3 separate regions of the Homo sapiens genome follow, and regions 2 and 3 are each linked to region 1. Evidence: fine-mapped expression QTL. A gene starts in region 1. Each other region holds a variant in brackets. All regions are shown on one strand. Distances are from middle to middle. Region 1 holds the start of STX18 (syntaxin 18). Region 2 overlaps STX18 (syntaxin 18). Region 3 overlaps STX18 (syntaxin 18).

The links. PIP is the estimated chance that this variant, and not a neighbour inherited with it, causes the effect.
Region 2: its variant is fine-mapped to the expression of STX18 in skeletal muscle (GTEx, PIP 0.91).
Region 3: its variant is fine-mapped to the expression of STX18 in tibial nerve (GTEx, PIP above 0.99).

What each region holds. Positions count from the first base shown.
Region 1 is chr4:4,538,759-4,544,295 of GRCh38, reverse strand. STX18 (syntaxin 18) reads left to right here and starts at 2,248. Exons shown (of 11, transcript NM_016930.4): 1 at 2,248-2,499. The coding sequence starts at 2,332. LOC124900165 reads right to left here and starts at 2,165. Exons shown (of 6, transcript XM_047416490.1): 1 at 1,821-2,165. STX18-AS1 (STX18 antisense RNA 1 (head to head)) reads right to left here and starts at 2,165. Exons shown (of 6, transcript NR_037888.1): 1 at 1,821-2,165. RefSeq lists enhancers at 2,080-2,374, 2,099-2,378.
Region 2 is chr4:4,431,552-4,437,088 of GRCh38, reverse strand. It overlaps STX18 (syntaxin 18), which reads left to right. Exons shown (of 11, transcript NM_016930.4): 7 at 2,231-2,319. Among named protein-coding and RNA genes, the nearest start is that of NSG1, 47 kb to the right of the region's middle. The variant T/A (reference allele first, on the strand shown) is at 2,299.
Region 3 is chr4:4,420,538-4,426,074 of GRCh38, reverse strand. STX18 (syntaxin 18) reads left to right here. Exons shown (of 11, transcript NM_016930.4): 8 at 853-911; 9 at 2,488-2,557; 10 at 5,131-5,211. Among named protein-coding and RNA genes, the nearest start is that of NSG1, 36 kb to the right of the region's middle. The variant T/C (reference allele first, on the strand shown) is at 2,586.

The sequences.
Region 1 (5,537 bases):
TGCTCTTGCAAATCCAGACAGAAAACTTAGATCTTTGTCCCTACCCTTCTACCCAAAATATCCAACTGCACCAAACACACGGTTTACACAAGGCACCACTCACTGAAGGCTTGGTGTAGTTCAGCCTCCCTCCCACTCAAAGATCCTTCCCAGTTACCTACTTTGTACTTTCCCGGCCCCCTCCCTGGGTTCTGGCTTCTCTTTTCTTCCCCCCAATTCAATCCCCCTCACTTTATTATGCAGGGCAATCTCTCTTTCCTTCTACTCTACCCCAGGCTTAACTTTGCATGGCCAAAAACTGATTAATGTCTGGATTAAACAAAGGGCCATTTATGCAAGATAGAATCATTGGCAGAGATTTTGTAATTTCTTTCTCTTTTCCTCAGTAGGTGGAAGAAAGCTGTATGGAAATTTATTTTCCTTAAACTGCAAGAAGTGGCTACAGTTTGGGTTTAAATAATCTTTTCCTGGCCGGGCGCGGTGGCTCACGCCTGTAATCCCAGCATTTTGGGAGGCTGAGGCAGGCGGATCACGAGGTCAGGAGATCGAGACCATCCTGGCTAACACGGTGAAACCCCATCTCTACTAAAAATACAAAAGAATTAGCCAGGCGTGGCGGTGGGCGCCTGTAGTCCCAGCTACTCGGGAGACTGAGGCAGGAGAATGGCGTGAACCCGGGAGGCGGAGCTTGCTCCAGCCTGGGCGACAGAGCAAGACTCCGCCTCAAAGAAAAAAAAAATCTTTTCCTTCCTCCTTTCTGGTAAATATATACTTTCTTGACATCTATTTCTGATAAACTTTATTTTTTTAACACAGTGGTTCTCAAACTTTTGGTCTCAACTCTTTTGCACACTTAAAAATTATTAAGGGCTCTAAACAATTTTGGTTTATATTGACATTATCGACATTTACTATATGAGAAATCAAAACAAAAACTTGATGTTTTTGAAAGTCTTTTTTTGGAGTCTGGCTTAATAGAAAACAGCTGTTCTGCATTTACTCCGTTGCAATATCACAGTCTCCAGCAAACTCAACTGTATGCAACTCATAAGAAAATCAGAGCGAAAAGGCAAATAACATCTTAGTATTGTGAAAATTTTATCTTGATGACCATTAAAACTGCTGTTTTAATACATATTCTACTTGTGCTTCCTCTTTATGAAAAAAGAAATCTTGAAGAAATCAATGAGATTTTGAATTAAAACTGAACCATAGGCCAGGCACGGTTGCACGTGCCTATAGTCCCAGCTACTCAGGAGGCTGAGTCCGGGAGGATCGTTTGAGCCCTGGCGTTCCAGCTGTAGTGAGCTAGGATGGCGCCTCTGACTAGCCACTGCAATCCAGCCTGGGCAACATAGTAGACCCCCGTCTCAAAAAACAACACAAAACAGAACATGAACCTAAAATGCAGAAGAAACTCATTGATTGAGTTGTCAATTTTAATAGCTATGGCTCAAGACGGTACAATTAAAAACTATGCATGAAGGATGAAGAGAATCCAGCGGCATTAGGGCCACTCTTTCACCTTTGTCTCCATCTAAACTTCCTATTCATCCTTCAAATCTCTGCACAGGTGACGCCTTTTCTCTAAAGCCTCTTCCTTTACCACAAATAACAGTGATTATAATAATAACATTATTAACGATTACTACCATTTATTGGCCACTTACTAGGAGCCAAGCAACATCAAAACACAGCACGCGTCAGCTCACTTAATTTTCACAGTAAACCCCGAGGAGGATGCTGGCTTCACTTTAAAAAGAGGTGACTGAAGGTTGGAGAAGAAAGGCCTCTGGCCTCTAGCTCTGTGCCTTGCACACCTGATCTGTCTCAGCATTTATTGCATCCCGAGGGTCACCGTCCACGTGCCTCTATCCTGCTCAAGGTGAGTTCTTGCAGTCAAAGGTCAAGGGTGGCTCGTCTCCACTTCCCCCGCAACCAAACCGCCCGGTCTCAGTGAGGGAGCCGCCAGAAGGGAAGGAGCCTCCTAGCTTCCCGGTCCTCACGCTCCCGGAGCCCACACGCCCCAAACAGACACAGAAGAGCTCGCTGAGCTCTCCGCGCAGCTAAACCCTCCAAGCTTTGCTGGGAGAAACCGATGCCCGAGAGCGCGTCGCGAGGTTCCTCCTCCGCCAGGTGCGCCGGCTGAGGCCGGAACCTTTTTCCTCCCGCCGCGGTAGCAGGGCGCAGGCCGGAACCTTTCTTCTCGCGTCGCCGTTGCCGGGGGGAGGCGTGTGGGGCAGGACCAGTCCTTCAGCGGCCGGGTTCGCGCCGCGGTCGCCGGCTGCTTACGTGGGCGGGCCTAGTGTGGGGCTGAGGGTGCGGGTCGCTATGGCGGTGGACATCACGCTGCTATTCCGGGCCAGCGTCAAGACCGTGAAGACGCGGAACAAGGCGCTGGGAGTGGCGGTGGGCGGCGGGGTCGATGGCAGCCGGGACGAGCTGTTCCGCCGGAGCCCCCGGCCCAAGGGCGACTTCTCCAGCCGGGCCCGCGAAGTGGTGAGCTGGTTGCTATGGAAACGGCGGGTTGAGGAGGGGGCAGTCCTGCGACAGGGACCCCGGGCCCCAAACCAGACCCCGTCCCGTAAGCATTGTGTGAAGGGGGTGGCTCTAAGGGGGACAGAAGAGTTGGCCTCAGAGACCCTACAGCTTTTTGGGGGAAGGAACAGCCTTATTTTGAGGAAGGGGGACGCATATTGGGGAACAGATTTCTCCTGCGGCGACAGGGATTGGGGGACAAGAAAGGAGATCCTCAGAAATCTCTATCTGGAAAGTGCATGGGCGGCTTTGTGAGGTCATGAGTTCGCCGTCACTACAGACTTGCACTCAGGGGAAACCTCCTGACAGTCCTTCGCTTCCTGTTGCAGCACTGACCACACCATATTTGCCTGTTCTATTTACTTGTCTGCCTCCCACCCCTAGTTGAGATTAAAAACTGTATTCAGCCGAACTCTTTCTTCCCTTTGTCTCTGCAATAAGTAGGACTCAGTTCCTCTTGAGACGGGTTTAGGGTAATCTTTCGCAAACACAGTGTTACAGTCACCTCAACTACTTTCTGTTCCCTGATCAGAGCAGGTGTCCCTTCATCTCCCTGGGAACAGGAACCTTTTCCTTAAGGGCAGGGACAGTGTTGTTTTCATCTCAGAATGCATGACTCATAGCATTGCTTAGTAAATGTTTGTTGAATGAGTGAATGAACAAATGGCTGTCTTTCCCATTAAACAGAAAACTCCATAAGGGGAGAGCTGTTTGTCTTGTTCCCTTTTGTGTTCGTGACACCAAGGAGGTATCTAGGTTTTGTGGGGCCTACAGCTTATATAGTTCTGTCTGCCCTCTTCAAGAAATAAAAATCACCAAGAAAGATTCAGAGCTTTGGAAGATTGAAGAGAGGGACCCTAAAGCTTAAGCCTCATTAATTTCACAGTAAATCCTTCTCTGCTTGGCATACACTTGGCACTGTATAGACACTCAGATATTTTTGAATGAATGTAGTCATGCATGCATTAATGACAGTTAGCAGAGGATACTTAAACATTAGAAAGGGGATTGGACCAGATGAATACACTCGCCCTATTGATGACCGTCTATGAAGCACCTACCTTCTGACCAGCCTCGTGTTAGAGTAATATGATGTAAAAGCAGTGGTGGAGTAGACGGACATAGACATAAAACAAGTGCCATAAAGCCTTGCAGGTGTTGTGTAGGGCACAAAAAGAATGTGGTCAGTTCTACCTGAGGACCAGAAAAGGCTTTATAGAGGCGATGATGCCTAAAACAAATCTTGAAAGAGGATTAGTTGGTTCCAGTGCAGAAGGACATCTCAGGCTAAGAGAATAGTATGCGCTAAGCTGTGGAGGTAGGTAACAGTCTGACATAAGTTGGTTCAATAAACATTTGAGTGAGACTGGAATGTGGGACTCTCATAAAAATTGGACGCGGAGATCTTAAAGGGCTTTGTGTATCATTGCAGAGTTTGAATTTTGCCCTGTAGATGGTCAGATGTTATCTGGTAGAGAAAGCACCAGAGAAGGAGCCAAGAGACGAGGTTGTTGTCTGAACCCTGCAACTATTAGCTATATGATTTCATTAAGCAAGTTTTAAGACCTCAGTTTATTTACCTGTAAATGGTCCTTTTTTTCTCCTCCTCCTTTTAAAAAACTACCTTGGTCCTCTATATGTAACAAATTAAAGTGGGAGCTTCCTAGGTTGAAATAAGAGGAAGAGAAACAGGACACTCTCCCTCCCAGTTTGGCCCAAGCACTTCTTGAGATTCCTTTTGTAGAACTGTGGTATGAATATCACAGTATTGGCTTTTTAAGGGTCCCTTCTAACTCTGAAACCACTGATTTATTAACACTGTGCTAATTTTGAGTCCTGCTCAGGGAAAGGGGGGATTTGGGAATGGTAGAGACAGGAGGCACAGTTGGGTTGGCAAGCCCTTTGGAGAGCCCTGTGATCACTTCCACCTCTCCCTGAGTGGTGAAAATGTGTTTGAGTTTTGAGTTAATGGGCCTCAGGGACAGTAACAGTCCCATAGGGTGCTGAGTTCCCTGTCACTGGAAGTGATTAAACAGAGTGATGACTGCTTTTCAGAGATGTTTGAGAAAAGCTTTGTGCATATGTCACAGGGTTGGACCGCATGACAATGCAACTTGCAGTTCTGCTATGTATTGATGTGAGTAGGTGTCACATCACCTTAAGTGAGTTCATGGGCTGTGTTGTTCAGGGACACTGTCCCCCTGACGTAGAGGAAACATACATTCTTTTAAGCAATTTTGATTTTATGTTGTCATTGCTTTGTGTATTATCTCCTGTTCTTGCAACCGTTCCCCACTCCCCATCTTCTCTTGTGGGAAGTTTAACTAGAAGAGCTAGTGATGGATGTCCTGTGCTTTTACTACAATTAGATGTCAAAAGTTTGGCTGTTATTTTGTTTGGCCTGGATTCCTTATAGAGAAAAGTCTGGTAAATACCAGAAGCACATATTCTAATTCAGGTTTAGCCCTGGTTGTCAGACTTAATGAAATGTAATAAGTTATAGTATGCCTTTTGGTAAGTGCCTTCCTTGAAGCATTTGCTGTTACTTCTAGGATGCGTTTTATCTGGTTCAATTTCTATTCTTCCATTCCATTCCTCAAATATATGCCTGATGCCAGATTTCCATCTCACTGAATTGTTGTAGAGGTTATATTAAGTTGAATAAAATTGCATTGAAACTGCAATTTTATTGCAGTCCCTACCTTCCAACAACAGGCTGATTGCTTCTGCATCATTCTTTTAAACATTTAACTTTTATGCTCAATTTTACTAAATTTATATATACTCAAATGCATGTCTACCCATTAAATTACAAATGGAGAGTAACGACTTTTCAGATTATTTGGGGGAGGAACTTATATTATTCGAACAACTCCAAATAATAATGAATATGTCACTCTGCAATGGGAATTTGATTAGTTAACTCATTTGAAGTGTGGGACTAGTGAGGATGATGGGATTGGAAAGAGACCTGGGCCTTGGGTTCAAATCTCGCTTCT
Region 2 (5,537 bases), 110 kb after region 1:
ACTGGGGAGGCTGAGGCAGGAGAATCACTTGAACCTGGGAGGCGGAAGTTGCAGTGAGCCAAGATCGTGCCATTGCACTCCAGCCTGGGCAACAAGAGCGAAATTCCGTCTCAAAAAAAAAAAAAAAAAAAAAAAAAAGTGAGTCTGGACCTGAAAAAATAAAAAATGAAAGCTTAGAAAGTTCTAGACAGAGGCAGCAGCATGAGCAAATGCTCAGAGGCCAGAAAGCCTGGAGATTGGGTGGGATATAGTCAGTAAAGAAGACCCGTGGGGATCAGTGAAGCCCATCAGTGGGAGGAGAGGTGGGAGTAAGCTTGGAAGGGTGGGTAGGGCCTTGAATGCCAGAGTAGGGAGTCTGGACTTGCCTCTGTGGCACCAGGGTGCACGGGTGGCCTGGGCAGAGGACTGGCATGGTGGGTGCTGTGCTTCAGGCTGATCCTTAGGGCAGCCTATCAAGAAGGCTTCTGATGGCCACAAATGAGCATGTTGTAGAGTGTGAGTTCTGCTAAGAAAACTTTCCCATTCTAGCTCAGAGTTAATTTATGCTTGGTTCAGATATGAACAAGGTTTCTGTTTCTAATTTTGATGTTTTTTTCCTTAAAAAAGAAATCAACAACAGTAAAAGCTTGAAATGGATACCATAATGAGGACAAGTAGGAGACAGCTCATAAGGTGGGGGTGGGGGGTAGATGAAAGTACAAATGTTCCTACCCAAAGAATGTCATCTCAGGAAAATATCAGATCATTTCTAAAGATACTTTTAGCCAACCTTTTACAAACACATGTTTTTCTATAATGACACTTCTGGTAAAAACAGCCATTTTTCTAAAAGCCTGCATGCACTAAGTTGTGGATGACATGCAGTTTTTTTTGTAAAGATATATTTCTAATAAATAACCATAACTTTCAGGCATGGCCTGCCTAGTGAGCTTTCTCTACATTGTTGCTATCATTACGTTCTCTTCCCCTATTTAAAGATCTGGACTTGTTGCCATCTCATGGGGCTGAGACTGACTACAGGAAATTTACTGAGATTGAGGAAAAAAGGAAAAAGAAGCAGTATTTGCCTTTGAGTACTTGGAAGCTCACTGATAAGCCCTGAGACACAGACACAAAGTGACTTCATTACAGTCTCCCCCGAGGATCCATCCCTGCCATCCCTCTCCCCTCCGCTCCCAACCCTACCCCGGTGATGAACTGCACAGACCTCTTACCGTCATCCTGGGCGGCAGCAGTCCTTTCTAGGGGCCTGTGGTATTGACATGCTTCAATGGAGGATGCATCACCTTTCCTTGATCATAATGAAAAAGTTCTCCAGATTAAAATGTTCCTACGCTCCCTTTCAGCAGTTGCATGCCCAGGTATCTGTCCTAGAGAGTCACTCCAGCATGTGCACATAGCACAGACCGGGACACAGTACCATGACACCAGTGAACAGTCTGAAACCACTGAGGTCTGTCAGCGTAGTTATGGCTAAAGACCAGTGTATCCTCACGATGGAATATCATGCAGCAATTTAAAAGAACAAGGTAGATCTACTTGGACCATCTCCAAGATGTATCAATAAATCATACAAAGCAAGTTTTAGAACAGCATGTTACTATTGATATCTGTGTGAAAAGCAAGCCGCCATACACACAAAACTGTGTATTACTTGAATTTCATGGGTAGACAGGGACTCATATATCTTTGTATGTGAATATCTTTAGATAAAATCTATGAAGCTACATCAAAGCAGTAACATCTGGGAGAGGAATAGGATTGGAGAACAGTATATCACTTCCTGTATATATATATATATGTATGTATATATGCATATGTATTTTTTACAATAAAAATATGTCTTACAGTCTTTAAAAGTAGACAGGGGTGTATGTGTCTTGAAGTAAAACATACTTTAAGACTCATTCTGAAGAATTCTGAAGACATTCTGAATAATGTCCATTTAGTTTGCAGCCATTGCTGACATCAGTGCGATACTGAAACCGTGCATAGGTCCCCCTCCCCATCACACACACACATGCACGTGCCTGCACAAAGACAATTTAAAGCCTAAATGTTGTGAAAGAATCATGTCTGCAGTGCCTGAATATTAGCCCAAAGATCATGAAATATATAGACAAAGCTGTAAGATTCTGTTTAATCTCTTGTTTGTGTTATGACTACATCCTAAGCCAGCCTATTCTAAAACACATATTTGGTCTTCTATTTTCAATTTTTTTTTTAACAGAAAAAATTTTGGCTGAAACACAACCTGAATTGGGAACGTGGGGAGATGGCAAAGGCGAAGATGAGTTA[T/A]CCCCAGAAGAAATACAAATGGTAATGCTATTCTCTGCCTAATTATTTATTTTTAACTGGTTTTCATAAGACTGTTTCACTAAGGAGAAACTCATCCTCAATGCCCTTGCCCTTATTTTTATACTGAGTTTTAAAAATTATAAATGTGTATTTTATATACACTTTCCCATTTGATTTCCTAATTCTTACGGTGCTTTTCATATGCTTTAAATTTGCAGTAGCATAATTAAAGAAGACATTTTGCCTTGGAAGAATTTTACTAATAATAGATGTCTTTTCAACAACAGTAAAATAGTCTTCTAGACTAAATGGGTCTTTTATAAATGCCACTATGATGCTTTTTAATTGTTTGAATTGCTAGTGCTATGGTAATGTGAAAAAAGTAAGATAATGACTGAAAAGTGAAAAGAGTAACACCTTAACTACTGATAGCACCTCCTTTTAGTTACCTGCCTTCTGGTTTCCAGCTGCTATAGCTTACCATCTATGGGTGGGTTTCAAAAGGAACTGATAGGTCTGCCAAGCCCCTGCCAGCTCACGTCCAGCAATGTCTGTGTGCAGCTCATCTGGACACTGGTGTGACAGAAGCCAGATGGAATATGCTATCTGTGTGTGGGAATAGATGTCACCTAGAGCTGCTAGGATGTGACACTGTCCTCTAAGACGTGGGGAATGTGACTACCACACGGCACGCCTCCAGTGACTGTGCCTGGCAAGTGATAGCATTTTAAGTGTGCAGCAGTTTGCAGTAGACAAAACTTTTTGATTCTCATTTTATCCATGATACTTTTAATAATTGCACAAAGAGGTGGTGGAACATTAGCATCTCATTTTAACATTGGCAAAAGGCAGCAAAGGGTCTTGCCCAGAGTCCCCTAGTTAATCAGGGAAGAGCTGGATTTCCAGCCCTCAAGAAGATAAGGAGTGGAGCATGAAGACAGCTCTGTTGAGGAAGAATGGGATCCAGTCTTTCCCCAGCCTTGAGCTTCTCAGACTGAGGCGTTTGTGTTGCTGCTTAAGCCACCTGAAATTTCAAGCTCTCTCTATCCACTCCTGGCATGTCTTACAGGTCTCAGGTATTTTTTCCTCAGACAGACCCGGCAACCCCACCTACAGCAGCTCCCAGATACTGTGTCCCATGACCCTACTTGATTTCCCGCATAGAGCACAAGCTCTGTGAGAGCAGAATCTTGTCTTGTTTTCCTCACCCAGAGCCCAGAACAGTGTTTGGGAATTCTTTTTTTTTTTTTTTTTTTAATTTATTTTTTTTATTGATCATTCTTGGGTGTTTCTCGCAGAGGGGTATTTGGCAGGGTCATAGGACAATAGTGGAGGGAAGGTCAGCAGATAAACAAGTGAACAGAGGTCTCTGGTTTTCCTAGGCAGAGGACCCTGCGGCCTTCCGCAGGGGAATTCTTTGTTGAATGCATGAGTGACTTTGATGAGTATAACATAAAAGCTATAGGTTGTTTTCAATGGTAAAATGGGATCATCAGTAATAACTATTAGAATGTTCTAGTGTTCAGTTATTACTAGTATTATGGATACTTATGAATGCCTTCTCTATCCCAAGCCTTTTACATATGTTGTCCTGTTGAATCTTCATGACAATCCAGTCAAGTAGGAATTATCACTATTACACAGTTGAAGAAAATGACGCACAAAAACTAAAGCCCTACCCAACGTCACAGAACCAGTAGAGCAGCAGAGCCAACCTTTGGCTCCAACCTGTGCTTTTTTTCCAGTTGGTTCTGGTGGTCTAGGCAAGTGTTGCTGCACAGGAGCAGCGTGGCACACTGACACAGGCCAGCCAGGCAGAGAAGTCAGAACAGCCGCGCCGGCCCACCGAAGTGTCATTGTAAGCATAGTTGTGCAGGCTGGGGACCTCCAGGGATGGCCAGGTCCACATGTCTGCTCTCGTGAGCATTGGCCGCCAAGGGCAGAGGACTGGCTCAGCATCCTCTTGCTCTTTGGACTTCCTGTTTCTTCTCCATGCCTGAAATAAAAGACGGAAACCAAATCTCTTTCCTAAAAATGGCATGGACAAGTGAAGACAAAAAAGCCAAAAGGTAGCACAGCCTAGTGGGAACAGTGTACTGTCTGACTGGAGTCCACACGCAGCCTCATCATTGCAGCCCTGGGCCCTCTCACTGCTCTGGACCTCTGTTCCCTCATCTGTGAGATGGGCAAAAAATGGCCACCCCACAGGTGGGGCTAAAGTTTGAGTGAGCTGGCCCATGAGGTGCATGCAACAAAGAGCCAGACACATGGGGTGCTTGAAAAATTCTGTTTCCCCTTCCTTTACCCTTGAGAGTGGCAGGTTGTACAAAGAGGCAGAAGAGCCTCTCCCTGCACAGGATGGAAGAGATTGGGCATAGCTGCCCGTGTGCCATGAGCAGGGAAGGACTGTGGCATGCATGCCATCATGGCAGGGTCAGGGCATGCAGGATGGCAGCTGGAGCTCAGACCATTTTCATATGCCTTTCATATACAATTCAGTTTCACACAGATTTATCCACCCAGATGAGTGGTTTCCCCTTTAAAATCATCGCCTTGAAAGCTTGAAACTGATTCCAGTGATGGTACCATTAGCCCTGACTTTCCTGAGACTTGCTTTGGGGGTTCTCCTTCAGAGCCTGTGATATTTTCTTTGGAATACTAAGCAGAGCTGTCTTTGTCCTTTACAGACAAAAATAATTCTGAACTAAGAAAATGACTCAAACACCTTAAAGTGCCCTGCAAGGTCCTTGCCTTCCTTTCCAGCTTCTTTCATGTTCCAGAATTCACCTTATGACTTGAAATAAGTGCTCACCAAATCCAGCAAATGTGGGACCTAGGCCCTCGAGGTGCACATTGTATAGTCGGTGGTTAGAGGAAGACAGCCGCAGGGATTCCAAGCAGTCATTGCTGTCAGTCAGGTTGAGAGATGAGGAGGGCCTTGAGCCGGGAGTGGCAGTGAAGGTAGTGTTGAGAGCTGTGGTGTAGGAAATGGCCTGCACTGAAGTGTGAGATGAGGAAGGAACCTTGAGCTTTCTGACGTGGGTCATCAGGAGGAGGGAGGGTGCACAGAAGGTGGGCAGGCTGGGGCTGAGCAGGAGATGATGAATTTCATGTAGACAGGTGTGAGTTTGAGGCGCCTGTGGGACATTCATGAGAGGTGTCTATGGGCTCCAGGGCTCGGGCTAGAGAAACGCATGTGGGAGACATCTTACAGCTGATGTTTGAAGGATGGGCTTGCG
Region 3 (5,537 bases), 120 kb after region 1:
GTGGGGCCTGCGGGATGCATCGGGGAGGAAATGCAGGACGCCCCTGACTCCCTGCACATTGCGGGAGTTGAGTGGACACACGAGGACAGGGCTGTGGGGGCCTGCAGTGAGGGCAAGGAGCTGTTCCTGTCCATTCTCTGTGCTGAGTTTCAGGAGCTTCCATCCTTTTCTTTGGCCCATATCAAACTGGCAAGAATGGCTGGGAGAGCAACTGTCTGTGCCAAGCTCACTCAGCTCCAAGAAGCTCCCATGTATCCCTGGTGTCAGGGCACCCGTCCTCACCCAGCCTGAGCACTGGGAAACACGCTCCTCTGGCTCTGGGCCTCTGTCCCTGTTGAGCAGTGGAGTGGCCAGGCTCTGAAGTCAGAGGGGCCCAGAGGCAGCTCGGCCAAGCTGCCCACCTCCCCTTCCTCTCCAGACCCTCCCCACACCAGATCCTTCTCCATATTAAAAAATATGTATAGTCCTTCAGTATAGTTCATGAGAGAAAACAACAACAAAAGAATTTTCTTAATAATGGTACTAGAGTCAGGAAGCAGGCCGTGGGATCCCAGGGGAGAGCGGGTAGGTAGATACAGCTACAGCCATAGCAGTCAGCTTGTACCCCTGGAGTGCAGTGGTTGAGATGGAGAAGTCAATTACCAGGCAGCACAGCTGTTTTTTAAAACTTTCTCCTGAAAGCAGGGACGTTGTTCACACTAATGCTAACGGTCGTCCAGCACCGGCTGCCACGTTGCCGCAGCTGGAAATGGGGGCTTCGGCAGTGATTCCTGGAGCGTAGGTCCGCTTTCTTGCTAGACTCTTGCCTAAGTTCAGTATGATGTCATCCTGAGTGTGTCTGTTTCCTCACAGTTTGAACAGGAAAATCAGCGACTAATTGGTGAAATGAACAGCTTGTTTGATGAAGTGAGGTATGTTTGTAGCTCCTCTGTGAGCTGATAGCCTGCTTTACAACTTTTCCAGGAACTAGGAACTTTATTTACCTTGGTGCCCAGGCATCCCCATGGGGCCCTTGGGCTGGTGCAGCCCCCCTCAGCCATTTTGACTGGGCTGGGGTGGGCATGTGGCCTGAATCCACAACTCCCTCAGCTTGTGGGCCTGTGGGTTACCTCCTGCCTGCTGCCACTGCTGCGGGGGGCCCAGGTGCTTCCCACCCCGAGAGATACAGGAGTGACTACAGATTACCTGCGTATAATTTCCACCACCATTCGGGCTGTTTCCACGCAGCGACTCTGAAATGAAATGGGGCCCTTATGAAGGGCAGCTAACCAAGGGAAGCCCTCTTCTGCAAATGGTTCCACTGGGGTCTGCCTGCTCCTGTACCCACCAGGGAGTCAGGAATGCAGAAGGCAAGGCCTTGGTCACTCACACATGCACCCGTTAGCCTCTAGTTTCTGTGGGAAGGCTTGGAGCATGCTGAAAGTAAGGCCCAGGACTTTGCAGAGCCTGTTGTATTGTGGACATGTCCCCCAAATAAAATCAATCCTGATGCTGCACTCACACAGCCTGAGGACTTTCTCAGTGTAGGTGTCAGCCTCCAAGGGGCTCTTCGCCTTCTGCCCTCAGAGATGGACCTCCTAGTCCTCCTCTGACAGCCTAGCTTTCACTGTCTGCCCCACTACCGCCCCCACCCCGCTACTCCCCCATGCCCAGATACTCACTGGCTTTTCTTCCCACATCTCCTCCCCTGCCCCCTGCCACTGTGATACTGTTGGGATTCATCACTGCTTCCACCTGGCCAGGAGCTCAGCTCCCACCACTTTTTGCCTCCTGTCACTTCCTGTCGCTGCTTTGTGCTGGAACAGCAGTTGACTTCAGCTTGGGCCAGCTTCTGTTTCTAAATAGATGTGCCCCCACCCGCCCCCCAGGGTAGCCCATGCTGCCCCTGACACCAGGAAGATGGCTAGCCCAAGTGTTTCAGATCCGACAGAACACTCCGTTGCCAAACCAAGACATGGCATTTTCTAAATGAATCAGAGGAGCTTTTTTCTTGGAACAGGGAGTTGGTTTGAAGGTAAATACACTTTTTTCTTTAACCTGCTGAGCATTAACAAAGCTGGATCATCAGCATATTCTGACCTTCTGAATCCCCACCATGTGTTACCATGGTGATGAGGCTAGGCAGAGAACTTACTGGAGACTGCTTTCTGTAACTGGGGCACAACCAGGCCCTCCCCATTCCCCGAGCAGTGACACAGAATGCAAAGGGCACTGCACACACCCACCTCTTGGGACTGAGGGTCAGTTGGCATGGTAGAGTGGACTTCCAAAAAGACCAGTGTGCTAGGCTATGCCAGAAGACAGGGAAGGTGACCCAGTAAGGAGAGTTCGCCTTCCTCTCCCATCTCCTCTTCCCCCAGCCGACACAGTGTGCCCCCTGTCTCTCCCACCTTCACGTAGAAGATAGGATTTCTTTAGAAGTGTGTAACAGTCCTGTTAGATTACCAAGTGCTAATAGTTAATATGTAATCTGTTCTTTTTATGAAGGCAAATCGAAGGGAGAGTGGTTGAGATTTCCAGACTCCAAGAGATATTCACGGAAAAGGTTTTGCAACAGGTAAAAAAACAAAAACAAAGGAGCTGTA[T/C]GTTTTCACTCAAAGGGGAATGTACTTGAGAGCACGAGACATTTTTCCCAAAGGCTGCTGCTCTACACAGCCAGGAGCAGAGCCATGTGTTGCTAGCAGGTGTGTGTGCGCAGAGCTCCTCAGGGAAAAGCTCTCACTACCCAGAGCTGCCTCTGCACACGTGTGATGGAGGAGGAGCTCCCCACAGGGGACCCACTGACCACCCCATGTGGTAGCACATGCGGTGGCACGTGGGAGGAGAGTCCAGGCCTGGCAGTCAGGGTTCTGGATGTGCTGGGTAAGCTAGGTAGCCCCCACAAGCTACAGTTTCCCATCTATAGGAGGGAGGGACTCCTGCAGGGTTATTCTCTGTTTGAGAGATAACTGCAGAAGCATCCAGCACGATGCTGACGGGCAGTTGCTTTTCAGTCAGTAGGTTACAGGAGCTCAGACCCAGGCCTCTCACAACGCGCGGTCCATGCCACCTCAGGGATGGTGTCTGCGTGGGAAATAGGATTGTTCTTTTCAAGTGAATTTTCTGAAATTCTTCCAGCCAATAACTGGCAAAACTTTTCAAGACCTGATAAATTTGCCCTTTTATTTTTAGCATCCAAAGACTATGGGAACGTTTGAAAGACAAAATTTTCTCCAGTATTTTAAACTGGACTACTTGACTTAAGATACTTCACTCACAAAATGACTTTCCATAAACCACACAGCCAGAGTGAAATCATTGTAAATGAGGTACATTAAGTCTAACAGTGGTTTGCAAGTTCGGGTTCATAGGAGTCGCCCTTTTTAATAACACTACCCTGCTTCAAACCTCCCAGCGGCTCCAGGGGGCCTGGGAGGGGCGTGCAGAGCATAGGCAGAGCCTTGCCTTGGCTCACCGGGAGTTTCTTTTTCTTTTCTTTTTTTTTCTTTTTCTTTTTTTTTTTTTTGGAGACAGAGTCTTGCTGTGTCGCCCAGGCTGGAGTGCAATGTTGCTATCTTGGCTCACTGCAACCTCATCCTCCCAGGTTCAAGCGATTCTCCTGCCTCAGTCAGCCTCTTGAGTAGCTGGGATTACAGGCATGCCACCACGCCTGGCTAATTTTGGTATTTTTAGTAAAGACGGGGTTTCACCATCTTGGCCAGGCTGGTCCCGAACTCCTGACTTCAGGTGATCCACCTGCCTTGGCCTCCCAAAGTGCTGGGATTACAGACGAGAGCCACTGCGCCCGGCCCACTGGGAGTTCCTAAGTCCTGAGGAACAATGTGTCTTTCTTGTTTTTTCCATCAGTGTTGCATTGTAGTTCATATTGATTCTCTCATTGGAACCTTGGCAGTGGTCACTTAGTTCACACTTTGAGACTCTCTAAAAAGGGGTGATGATGAGGCAAAGCCATCCCAGTAATATTCATTGCTGGGAATCAGAGGCCACATGCTGCCTTCCTCCCTACAATGTGTCAGTCAGGTTTCTCTAAAAACCCACGCTAGCATTCATTCTGCCCTGACCCTGTTAGGAAGCAGCTTCACCACCACCGAAAGGAGGAGAGAAGCAGGCACTCCTGCTTGTAAGGACGTCTAGCACCGTCTCTGCTCCTGTGGGGCCAGACGCCCCCTGTGTTATCCCACGCTTCTCAAGCTTTTCAAGGCTTCGTTTGGAGTAAACGTTTTCTGTAAGCATCCTGCATCCTATTTTGATTTTTAAATTTTAGCCTGTTTTTTAAGAGATATGATGATAGTAAAACACAAAGCACTATTTTTGAAGCTAGCATATGTATTTCGAAGCACATACATTTTAAAGCTTACTTCTGTGGACTTCAGAAAGAAATGAGAGACTAGAAGGGAAGCCCCTGGCATATGGTGGCTGCTCCACAAACAATAGCTCTTAGGTTTTTGTCCGTCACCGGCGAGTGGCGCAGGAGGGATGGTAAGTGTGGCGGAAGGAGCACTGCAACAAGATGGGGTCTCAGCCCTGCGCGGTGGCTCATGCCTGTAATCCCAGCACTCTGGGAGGCCGAGGCGGGAGCATGGTGTGAGCTCAAGAGTTCAAGACCAGCCTGGGCAACATAGGGAGACCCCCCATCTCTACAAAAAATTTTAAAAATTTAGCCAGGCGTGGTGGCACATGCCTATACTCCCAGCTACTTGGGAGGCTGAAGTGGGAGGATCGTTTAAGCCCTGTCTCAAAAAAAAAAAAAGTCTCAGTCCTGCCACTTGGTTGCTGTGTGATGTGACTTTGGGCAAGTTAGTAAACTTCTCTGAGCCGTGAGTTTCCGTTTCATAAAATAGAGGTAATACCTACTTCTTGGGGTGCTGTGAGGATTTGTGGCTATGCAAGTAAAGCCGTTAGCCCTTGGTGACGGCTACTGTTCTTGTCATGATATACGCTTCAGGGAGGAGGAAGTGGCTGTATATGTCAAGCATCCCTAAACTTCAAAATGTGAAGTCCTAAGTGCTCCAAAATCTGAAACTTTCTGAGCGCTGACATGACACTCAAAGGAAATGCTCGTTGGAGCATTTTGGGTTTCAGGTTTTTGGATAAAGGATACTCAACTTGTATTTATCTTTTCTTCCACAGGAAGCTGAGATTGACAGCATTCACCAGTTAGTTGTGGGGGCAACTGAAAATATCAAGGAAGGCAACGAAGACATAAGAGAGGTAGGCACTGTTTAGGTTCCCCAGGTGCGACGTGGCGCAGCACTGAGTCCCAGCAGCGGGTGTTAGTCTCGCCGGCACAGCTGCCCAGGAGCCTTGCTGGGCAGAGCTCACGGGGCTGATCACAAAATTGTGTGACCGCGGAGCTGCGTGTGTTCATGAGACCCACCACCTGTCGCCCACCTCCAGCTGCTTTCGAGAGGCAGTGGCTCACCAGCCTCCAAAGGAGCAATCCAGGGTGGGTGGGGGTACTCCTGGCAGGGTCAGGCCAGCTCTTCATGTCCAGGGATGTACATGGGTAGCTCGTTGGCCCCCACCGAGGGGTCAGA